Regions from separate parts of the Homo sapiens genome. Here region 1 is linked to region 2. The links come from fine-mapping of genetic effects on plasma protein levels. A gene starts in region 2. The other region holds a variant in brackets. All regions are shown on one strand. Distances are from middle to middle.

Region 1 (5,355 bases), 23 kb before region 2:
GGTTGTGTGTGGTGTCTCGTTTCTGCCGCCGCTTGGGCGGGGGCTGCACCTCCGGGGGCTCACAGTACAGGTCGGTCTCCGTCAGCGTCTTCATGGTGCAGCGCTCGGCACCCACGAAGGCCTCGGCCTCCTGCAGCGTCATCGCCTTGTTCAGATTGGTGCCCTGGGGAGGCGGCAGTGGTCGGGGTGAGGAGGAGGGAACCAGGGACAGGTGGACCAGCTCTCAGCCCAGACCCGAGCAGGACCCAGACACCCGGGGCTGCACCGTCCTCACCCGGGCGTGGATGAGCTTGTTGACCTGCTTCTTGACGCCACCTGTGAAGTTCTCAAAGGTGGGGTCAGGCACGTACTCGAAGGCCCCGGCCTCTGTTCTGAGCAGGGCACGGTGCCCGTCCATCTCGATCAGCACCGTGAGGTTGTAGGCCTCTGGCTCCTCAGGCACAGCCGGGGACAGGAAGACGACCTTGGTGTCATTGTGGAACACGTAGTCTGTACCCACCACCTGCAGGCAAGTCCCAGCTGTCAGCCCCCGGGCGCAGACCCCGCCCTTCCTGGGCACGATCCCATGGGCCGGTGCCAGAGCTGAGCCCACGCCAGGACTGACCGTCATGGGCTGCAGGGATTCAGCCTCCCGCGGCGGCTGCCAGGACTGCAGGGGCTCCGCGATGACCACCATGGCAAACCTCTGGATCAGGCTGAAGCCCTGACCCGTGACGTTGATGCTGCGGCCACCACTGCGGAGGGCAGTGCCTTCGTGGGCTCGGCTGGCAGGGGTGGTCCCTGCAGCCTCCGCCCTCCCGTCCCCGCCCACCCTGGCCCTGACCACACGGGGCTTCCAGGTGCATGTGTGGGTCTCGGTGGGCAAAGGGGCAACGCGGTGGGACGTGCTGAGCACGAGACTGTGCCGCAAGTGGGCGGGGGGCACACGGGGCCTGGTGAGCGTGGAGCCTCTGGTGTGCCCATCTGGGTTTCTAGGAGGAAGTGGATCTGGAGTGCAGTGGGGTTTTCCGGAGGCCGCCTCCCGCTGCACAGACCAGCCCCACCACATTCCTTTCAGCACAGTCAGCCAAGGGCACTGAGGAGGCAGCTGGGTGTGGGGAGCAGAGGGGGGCGGGGGGACACCAGCCTCACCTGGCAAAGCTTCGTAGCGGCTCGAAGGCTCGCAGTACGGGGTTTTCGCGGTAGGTGAAGAAGATGCCGGGGTTGGGCACGGGGGACCCCCCGTAGGAGACCTCCAGAAGCATCTGGCCCCGTGTCGCCTGGGGGCCAGTGACACACTGGAGCTGCGCCCCAAACTTCGTCCTGGGGGAGGGAGGGTGCTGGTCTGCATCAACCCCTCCCCCGGGACCAGCCCCAGCCCGACCAGGCTGGCCCCGCCATCCCCTCAGGGCCACTCAGGTCTCAGTAAGTGCCCCCCTCCATACCCAGGGCCAGGGCCAACCAGACTCAGCAGCTGGCGGTGACACCCACACTTTACACGGGACGCCGTTGAGGGTCACCCGCACGTCCTCCTGGGAGCCCGTGTCCAGGTGGGTGCCGTGGATGGTCAGTGTGGTGCCGCCCGCCTGCGGTCCCTGCTGCGGCTCCACACTGAGAGGCTTGGGCTGCTGAAAGAGCCGCAGGGGCACTCGGGTGAGGACGGGGCACAGGACGCCCTCGGTCCTGGGCTGGATGGTAACTGTCGTGGGGAGGCGGCGGGCAGAGCCCCTCCTCCCGGTCCTCCCGGGTTCGGCAGGTCCCCGAGGCCGGGTGCTTACTTGGAAGGTGAACTGGACATTGGGAGGCGAACGGCCCAGTTTCCCGAAGACGTCCACCTCGACACCCCCCGTGAAAGGCGTCTCCGCAGCCTCGATCACACACACGATCCTGGCGGGCGACAGGCAGTGTGGCCCAGGCACTCCCCGACCCACCCCACACCCTGACACCCTCACCCCCTCAGCCTCCCCACCCACCCAGTCACCCGGAACCCCAGCGTGGGTACTGACCCAGCTGACAGGGCCCAGACCAGGGCCGTCCACTCACCGGGTGGACACGGAGTAACGTTCCGGCTGAAAGGAGCAGTTCCGGCCGGCCACAGAGATCCTCTGGATGTCCCCTGCTTGGACGCCCAAATTGGACCCCAGGATGGTGATGCGGATGCCCCCACCCAGGGGGCCCGTCTCAGGCTGGATCTGAAACCACAGAGCCGGGTGAGCAGGGAGGGGCTCATGCCAGGGACGAGGGAAGGTGTAGGCCAGGCTTCGAGGGGCTCACCCTGGTGATGACGGGCGGCGGGCACTCGGAGGTGGTGTTGCACAGGGCCTCATACACGCACCTGCTCTGGCCCCCGCACCACGCACACCTGTAGTCGGGGTTAGCGGCCCGGCACAGGCTGCAGTCGCTGCGGCCAAAGGAGCAGT[T/C]GTAGAGGGTCACTGCGGGGAGAGCTGCCGTCAGTGGTCACCCCGTGCCTGCCCGCCCCCGACCTGCTCCCCACTGCGCCCACCTGTCCCCCCACCCACCGCCTTGTGCCCACCCGTCCCCTGCCCGCCCCCCACTGCGCCCGTGGCCCCCACCATGGAGCTTGCTGTCGATATTCTTGCCGTAAGACTTGACGTAGAGGTGCAGGGGCAGCGTCTCGTTGGCATCGTGGGACAGCTGGGGGACACGCAGGGGCACACTGCACTTCCTGCCCCCACAGAGGGGCGTGGGGCGGGGGTCACAAGGGCAGCCTCCCTGTGGCCACCGGGTCCCTTCCCAGCCAAGGGCAGCAGGGGAGGCCTTCAGGTGTCGGAAGTTCGGGAACCCCATGGACGCTGCTCTGTGCCACTCTGTCCCCAGGGAGGCAGAGGGCAGAGGGGGCTTCCCCAGCAGCACAGGGCATGGCGAGCCCCTGGCTGGGCTCTGGTCCCTGGGGTCTCCCTGCTGCCCCTCCCCTCACAGTCCTGAAGGTGACCCCCCACCCCACCCGGGGCCCTGGGGTCCAGCAGCCGAGCCGGCCTGCCCTGGAGCCGTACCTTTGGGGTCCGAAAGGCGAAGGTCCCAGATTCCTGCATGGTCACCGGCTCCATGAACTTGAGCAAGTCACTGCCCACGTGCAGGGAGGAACCCTGCAGACCATGCCGTCAGGACCCTGGACAGGCGGCTGTGGCACCCTGGCCCTCCTCCCAGAACCCCTGCAGCCCCTCCTCTGTGCCTACAGTGTGGGAGCCCTCTCCTCACCCCACACATGCCCGCCCCTCAGATTACCATGCCAGCTGACCCCTCGGCCACTCCTGAGCCCAAACACCTGTGTCTGCAGAAGCCTCTGAACGTCCTCTGTGGGTTTCCCACGGCCACCTCCACCACTCATCCACACCTGAGAACATCGCCCGGCCCACCTGACATCGTGGCCCCCACAGCTCCCTCCTCAGGAGGTGGCACTGGCCCCTCAATCTCCACACGCCTGCCTCCTCCACTGCCTCTCTTCAGGCCCATCCAAAGGCCCCCGAGTGCTGCCTCCTGGCCTCTGTCCCCGATAAATCCTGTGCCCTCTACCTCATGTGGGGGCCCCGAGTCGGGGGGCACGGGTGGAGCTCAGGCTTCCCACACACCCATCAGCACTGGCCGGCACCCCTCCCTCCGTACCTTAGCCTGCCTGTCACCAACCGGCACCCCCTCCCTCCGCACCTGAGCCTGCCTGTCACCGGCCGGCACCCCTCCCTCCGCACCTGAGCCTGCCTGTCACCAACCGGCACCCCCTCCCTCCGCACCTGAGCCTGCCTGTCACCGGCCGGCACCCCTCCCTCCGCACCTGAGCCTGCCTGTCACCGGCCGGCACCCCTCCCTCCGCACCTGAGCCTGCCTGTCACCGGCCGGCACCCCCTCCCTCCGCACCTGAGCCTGCCTGTCACCAACCGGCACCCCCTCCCTCCGTACCTGAGCCTGCCTGTCACCGGCCGGCACCCCTCCCTCCGCACCTGAGCCTGCCTGTCACCGGCCGGCACCCCTCCCTCCGCACCTGAGCCTGCCTGTCACAGCCGGCACCCCTCCCTCCGCACCTGAGCCTGCCTGTCACCGGCCGGCACCCCTCCCTCCGCACCTGAGCCTGCCTGTCACAGCCGGCACCCCTCCCTCCGCACCTGAGCCTGCCTGTCACCGGCCGGCACCCCTCCCTCCGTACCTGAGCCTGCCTGTCACCGGCCGGCACCCCTCCCTCCGCACCTGAGCCTGCCTGTCACCAGCCGGCACCCCTCCCTCCGCACCTTCACGGTGTCCAGGTTCTTGCCCTGGAAGTTCACATCTGTCTCGTGGTTCATGGGGATCACCAGGGGGCTGGGTCCCAGGAACTGGGGACAGCTGTCCTCCTGGGAGAGTAAGGCTGGTCAGGTGCTGCCTGGGCACAGCGGAGCAGCCATGCCCTGAACAGTCCCCTGAGGCCCCGAGGCCCCTCACCATGTGGGCACGGACGATGCCGTCCTCAGGGTTGGGCGAAGCCTCCCGGCACTCGTGGTAGCGCAGGTCCCACTGGCAGGTCCAGCGGTTGCTCACGCAGGAGATGCACCTGCATCCAGAGGGGATCGTGAGCAGGGCTGGGGTGGACGGGCAGGGTGGGGTCGATGGGCACAAGACACTCACGGCAGGTTCTCCTCCAGGCTCATGGCCTGGCGGCAGTCGTAGAAGGGGTACTGGTAGGACGTGAGGAAGATGTTGCCTCGTCTAAGGAGGAGCTGGATGGTCACGGCCACGTGGTCTGCAGACAGCAGAGGGGGAGGTGTCAAGGTGGCGGCCGCAGGGCCGAGGGCCAGGCTGGGCCTCCCCTGGGGCTGACTCCTGGGGCCAAGGTGGAGACCCCTGGTCTTCAGGGGGCCCTGCCAGGACGCCCCGCATTCATGTTGGGCGGGGCCTGCCACCTGCTATCAGATCTCGGGTGGGGCTGCCAGGACGCCCGTTCACGCTGGGCTGGACCTGCCACCTGCTATCAGATCTTGGTTCGGGTGTCGGGCGCAGCACCGGGCTTGCCTTTCTCCCCCGGGTCCAGGTTGCTTTCATACCCTCTGTTCCCGCAGGCACTGAGGGCAGCGGCTCCTTGGAGTCTGAGTGGGACCTGCCAGGTCCCTGCCCACGTCACTGCGTGGCCCCACTGCCCCCAAAACTCAGGGGACATGGGCGCGACGCCTGCCCTGGCCCACATGCGAGGCCCTGCAGCCTCTGGGAACGGCCCTGCTCTCTGAAGCTGGACATGGCAGGAAGGGGTGAGGGGCGTCTGCCGAGACGACGGGGCCTGGCGCCTGGCACCCACATGCCGCTCCGGACGTGATGAGGGAGCAGGCTGAAGACAAGTCACCTTTGCTACAGGCCTGGGGGGCGTGGCTGCGGACAGCCCAAGAAGCCAGAACC
Region 2 (5,355 bases):
GGCTGCAGCCAGAGGGACGGAGGCATGAGCTGAGTGAGAACTCCCAGCTCAGGGGAAGGCAGCCCTCGTGGCAGAGGCCTGGCATCCAAGTGCCTGCCTAGCTCAGAGAAGGCACAATATGAGGGGCCGGAAGACACAGCCTCTCCCAGCCAGTGCACCCCTGCCCACGCCCGCGTCCCAGGGGGACCATCAGCTGTGGCTGGCACAGGGTGAGGCAGGGGGCAGGACACGGTGAGCACGGACGACGTCCTGGGATGGGAGGAGGACTGTGCCATATGGGCCCTCCCCACCACCTTCCAATCCAATCTCTTCTGCTCCACTTCCCTGGGCCGGGTCCAAGGCTCTGGGCTTTCTGCACTTGGGGCCAGCTGCCGGCTCCTCCTCCCCGATGTGGTCCCCATGCAGGCCGCCGGGCACACACCCCGGGCGCACACACAGCATGGACCCAGAGCGCCAGGTAGCCACAGCCCTGGCCACACAGCATCGCAGATGACTCCTCACATAGACCTATCTCTGGCCTCAGTCTCCCCACCTGCAGGATGGGCTCACAGGCGCCATATCCAGAGGGGGTCGTAGGCAAGGACTGGCTGTCGGAGGGGCTTGGAGGGAGGCTGGTCCGTTAGTCAGGAGCTGAATAGGGAGTCCGTTGGGGCAGGAGGGCCCCCTGAGGGAAACCCCAGTGCCCTCCCTAGCAGCCTAGCCTCGCTCCTGCCTGCTCCTCCCTGGCACGCACAGGTCACTGGCACAGGGTGTGTCCCTGAACTTGGGCCTGGAGGGTACCTCAGAGGCTCTTCAGACCACCATTGAGACTTCTCGGGGCGAGGGGGTCCCTGGGTGGGGCGAGGGGGTCCCTGGGTGGGCCCAGAGCTCCTCCTGTTCCATGGTCTCCCCCAGAGGGGCTTGGGCCCACTGCAGGCTCAGCAGGGCCTGCTGGGGCCAACCTTGGGGCTTTCTCCAACCCAAAGGTGACGCATCTTCTCCCCGCCCAGTCTGGGCAGCTGCAGTAGAAAGTGGCAGAGCTGCCCGGACTTGCCCGTCCTCCTCCTGGGGCCCTCAACCCACGTCCCGGAAGTGGATCCTTCTCCCACGCTGCAGCCTCCCGCTTCGGGTGACTGGACACGGCTGGATGATCCAAAATAATTCTTTCTTGGCAGGCAGCCGGTGGGGGAGGGGGACTCACATTCCAAACCCTTGTTTTTCTCAGTAACTTCCCTCCTCTACTGGGGCAAGGAACCCCTGGCCAGACCTCAGGCCTCCCAGACCCCCCGGGACAGAGGTGGGCCCCCCATAGGTACCGTGGGAGGACTCAGATGTGCCAGGCCCACCTGCTTGCTTCTCAGTCGGCTCTGGGGATTTCTATGCAACATGCAAAAAGCTGACTCGCCACAAACCTATGCCTGCTGGCCCTGCCCTCCGGGAGACCCTCACCTCTGGACAGGAAAGGGAGGGCTCCTCCCACCAGCTGTTCAGCTGTTCCGTGCCAGGGTCATCTGGGCATGGGGCAGGCTGAGAGCCCCCACTTCCCGGCAGCCTCGCTCTCCCACCCGCAAAGGGCTCCTGAGGAAGCTCAACTTTAAAGCCTCACAGGCTGCGCCGAACCTCCAAGCAAGGGCCGAAGTCAGACATTAAGTGGGGAGGGCGGGGGGGTCCAGGGAAGGTGGGGCACAGGGAGCCCTCCAGGCCGCCGGGATCTGCCGGGTTTGGGGCCCACCCTCACCCTCACCCTCACCCTCACCCTCACCCTCACCCTCACCCTCACCCCCTGTCCTGACTCTGCCACAGCCCACAGTGGGCAGACGGACCCCTTTCTTCCTTTCCCAGGGAGCTTCGGGAAGAGAAATCAAGGGCCTGGCAGGAAGCCCCAGGGCGTCCGGGCTCTGAGACCCCCAGATGACAGGGGGAGGCGGGCTCCCCAGATCTGCCGAATAGCCCGACCAGGGGCGCTGGCAGGGCAGGGGCTTCCTGCAGGAGCAGGGTGCGGAGGGGCAGGGTCAGCAGGGGACAGGCAGGGCTCGCGCCCCCGCTTCTGAGACTTTCTGTGTCTCGGGGTGTCCACCCAGACGCCACTCTGGGAACCGCGAGGAGGCCCAGGCAGTGGGGTCTCGCCAGGTGCGGGTGCTCTCCGCCCTGGTCCCCCCGCGCCAAGCAGGCCCCAGGGGGTGCGGGGACGGCCCCCGGGAGCTCGGGCAAATCCAGGCTCCTGTGCCGCTGAGCCTGGGGCCGGCCCGGAGCGCCCGCACCGCGAGACCATCTCCGCTCGGCGCACGGAGCTCGGCGGCTGAAGAGTGAGAGGCAGGCGCGGAGGAGGGATCCGACGCGGCTCCGGAGGGACGCGCAGCCCCCGCCGCCGGGCCCGTCCCCCGAGTCAACACCGGGAAGGGAGTGGGGCGGCAGCGGCCCGGGCCTCGCCGGATGGACCGACGGACGGGGCCCAGGCCCCGGGAGCCCTCCGCGGAGCCGCAGCCGCCGCAGGTCCCCGGGCCCCAGCGCGGCAGGCCCGGGCGGAGCGGCGCTGACGGCGAAGCCCCCCCCACGCCCAGCGAGACGTCCCCCGCAGCCCAGTCCCCCGAGCTCGGTACCTGCACGTCCGCCGCCAAGGCTCGATGGCGCCCGGGCCGCGCTCGGCGCTGCGCTCTGGCCCGCGCTGCTGCCATGGAGACGGGGCCTTTGTGTGGCCGAGGAGGGGCCGGAGCGCGCGGGAGCTGCCGGCCCCGCCCCCGACGAGGGAGAGGAGGGGAGGGCGGGGAGAACAGGAGAAGGGGGGAGAGGGAGAGGGAAAGCGGAGGGGGAGAAGGAGGGGGAGGGGGAGGGGGGAGAGGGGGAGGGGGGAGAGGGGGAGGGGGAAGAGGGGGAGGGGGAGAGGGGGAGGGGGAAGAGGGGGAGGGGGAGGGGAGGGGGAGCAGGAGCGGGGAGGAGAGGGCAGAAGAGAACCGGAGAGGAGGGGAGGGGACGGGAGGGGAGGGGCTGGGCCTGCGCTCCCCGCGCCCCCCACTTCTCCCCTGCCCAGCGGCCACAGCATTGTCTGGTAGGTTCAGGCACCCCAGTTCAGACCCAGGTTCAGCCAGGGCAGCACCCTGCCCACCATGCCGCCGTCCAGGAAGCACGAGCGCCCACAGAGGCCCCATGGCCTGAGCACCCCCACAGGAACCCCGCAGGTCTGAGGGGAGGCCATGGCTTGGTACCAGGGGAGGGCATTATGAGTGCACTCTCGCCTGGCCAGAGGAACGTGAGGGTCCCTGCCAGTCTTGAGATGTGTGGGCACCAGACTCTCACTCCCAGACTGGAAGCATACCAGTCGCTCCCCTGCGGCCTTCAGGGGTGGGGGCTGCTGGGCTTTGGCCCTTTCCCAGGGGTCTCAGGCCCTCAACCTCCCAGGGTAAACTGGGACCTGGAGATGGCCTCCCAGCACATCCCTGGCCTCCAGCAGCACCTTGGGATGCTGCACCCGGGACCCCACCTGGTCCTTCAGGGCCAGGAGGTGGGCGGGCCGAGACCTCTTTCTGGGGGTTCTGGTTTCTGGGACAGAGCTGGCCCCACTTCTGGCATCCCAGGTCCCAAGTCCTGGCCTCAGTGCTCCTAGTGTCCCCTGGGCTTGAGAAGAGGTGGTGAACCGTCTGCAGGGCCAGACCTTGGAGCACGCCTCCACTGCCCTCCCGGAACTGGATGTGCTGAGCAGGAGACAGAAGCATTCCCCAAGCTCTTGCCCCCACCCTGGGTCACCCCTCCCTGGGGCCCGCCTTCCACCCAGACCTGCCCCGTCCTTGCAGCTGGTCAGCTTCCTCCTGTCCCCAGCCAGGCATCCCCTCCTCCTCTGCTTCCCCCACCCGGGATCCGCCCCGCCACATCCTGACAAACTCCCCCAGCCTGACTTAGTTCTTTCAGTCTCTGCCTTCTCCCACCCTCAAGCAGCCAGGCCTTGTTCCTGTCCAAAATCTTCCCTTGGGCCTTGAACCACAATCCACATCACGGCAACCCTACCCTTCACTGCAGAGGACCCCAAAATTACCAGGTTCTGACAAGGTTGCCAACTTTTTATCAAAAAAGGAAAAGACAAGGTCCAGTCACAAAAGGACATTTTAATACCAAAACTGTGGGAAGGCCACTGTTCTAGACTAAAAGGGAGTCTTTAAATAGCCAGCAGGAAGCTTGAGGGTGAGCAGCTGTCCTTCCTGTCCCTGAGCAGGCCCCCTGTGTGCACCCTCAGCCCCGAGCCCCACTCCAGACCTGCTCCCAGCCCTTCCCACCCTCTAGGTTCTGTGGTCCCTGTCCTTCGGGAGGCCTGTGACCACAGCAGTCCTCACCCTCGCCAACTAAGTTCTGCCCAGCAAGCCCTCTTGCCTGCGGGGGCTGGCACTCTGGCCAGGGGTAGAGCTGTCTGGACCTTCCTGCCTCTTCACTGACTGCCCCTGGCCTGGAGTGCGTGGGGCGGGGAGGGCCATGGCCTAGCCCTGGACAGAGGCTCAGCCAACTCAGAGCGGCCCTGACACTGGGGGGGCCACAAGAGGCATCCGGACAGATGGAGCTGGCAGGTCTCCACGCCCAGCCCCCACCCATCCACCCCAGGCCACATTCCACCCCAGGCCTCTTCTGCACAGGTGGGGACAGGCCCTGAGGAAGAGGGGCTGGGACACTACCCCCCACCTTAGCCTTAGCTTCTGCCCAGGGCAATGCTGGCCACCCAGCCCGGTTCCCCCCTCAAGTTCCCCCTTCACACGCCACTATGTGGCCTCACCAGAGCCCTCCAGGGAAATCTGCTTGTGCATTTCTGGATACACAGTGGCCAGGGTCCCTGGGGGCTCCTCAGAGACCAGCCTGAAGCCCCTCCCCTGCAGCCATGTGGGTCTGCAGCCCTCTGTGCTGTGCGGCAGCCCTCAGAAAGCCAAGTGAGGCGAGACTGTGCTGTGGGGAAGCACATGCTGCCACGGTCCTTGGGGTGCGCTCCCCAAAGTGGGGTCACAGTTGTGAGAGAGGTGGGTTGTCTTCCCAAGCTGCCCCGACACCTTGAAGTGGTGGTCCTCAGGGGGCTGGTCACCAGCATAAGGCTTTTGCAGAGGGCCCTGGTGGAGGGCAGCTGATGGCAGGGCCTGTACTGGCCCCCCAGGCCCCATCTTATGGAGGTCAGCATTCAAGCTGCCCACACAAGAGGTGCCAGCATCTCTGCAGACCCTCTAGAGACCAAGCCCTCAGTGGGGAGGCTGGTCCCCCTGTGCTACAGTCAGGAGGCCCAAGCTGCATTTGGGGCCAGGACCTTTCTCACCCTCGGGTCCCCGGCTTGTCCCTGCCACAGAACAGGTTTGCCACCTCGGCCTCTATGTGTTCTGTTTCATGTGGTCACATCCTTGGACCCTGCACCAG

Evidence for each region. PIP is the chance, under the fine-mapping model, that this variant and not a neighbour inherited with it causes the effect. The UK Biobank Pharma Proteomics Project read protein levels with antibody pairs (Olink). The fine-mapping took linkage between variants from a reference panel, not from the people measured, so its PIPs are less certain.
Region 1: its variant is fine-mapped to the plasma level of the PLXNB2 protein (UK Biobank, PIP above 0.99). The variant lies in the coding sequence of PLXNB2. If it changes the protein, the assay may bind it differently, which can mimic a change of level.

What each region holds. Positions count from the first base shown.
Region 1 is chr22:50,281,580-50,286,934 of GRCh38, forward strand. PLXNB2 (plexin B2) reads right to left here. Exons shown (of 37, transcript NM_012401.4): 9 at 4,594-4,708; 10 at 4,411-4,519; 11 at 4,221-4,322; 12 at 2,994-3,086; 13 at 2,553-2,634; 14 at 2,254-2,411; 15 at 2,023-2,171; 16 at 1,758-1,866; 17 at 1,471-1,607; 18 at 1,132-1,302; 19 at 605-734; 20 at 275-502; 21 at 1-163. Among named protein-coding and RNA genes, the nearest start is that of MAPK11, 14 kb to the left of the region's middle. RefSeq lists an enhancer at 538-1,737. The variant T/C (reference allele first, on the strand shown) is at 2,400.
Region 2 is chr22:50,304,974-50,310,328 of GRCh38, forward strand. PLXNB2 (plexin B2) reads right to left here and starts at 2,673. Exons shown (of 37, transcript NM_012401.4): 1 at 2,580-2,673. DENND6B (DENN domain containing 6B) reads right to left here. Exons shown (of 20, transcript NM_001001794.4): 20 at 4,057-5,355. RefSeq lists enhancers at 327-1,526, 916-1,285 and silencers at 1,834-1,984, 2,505-2,574, 2,585-2,784, 2,945-2,994, 3,695-3,744.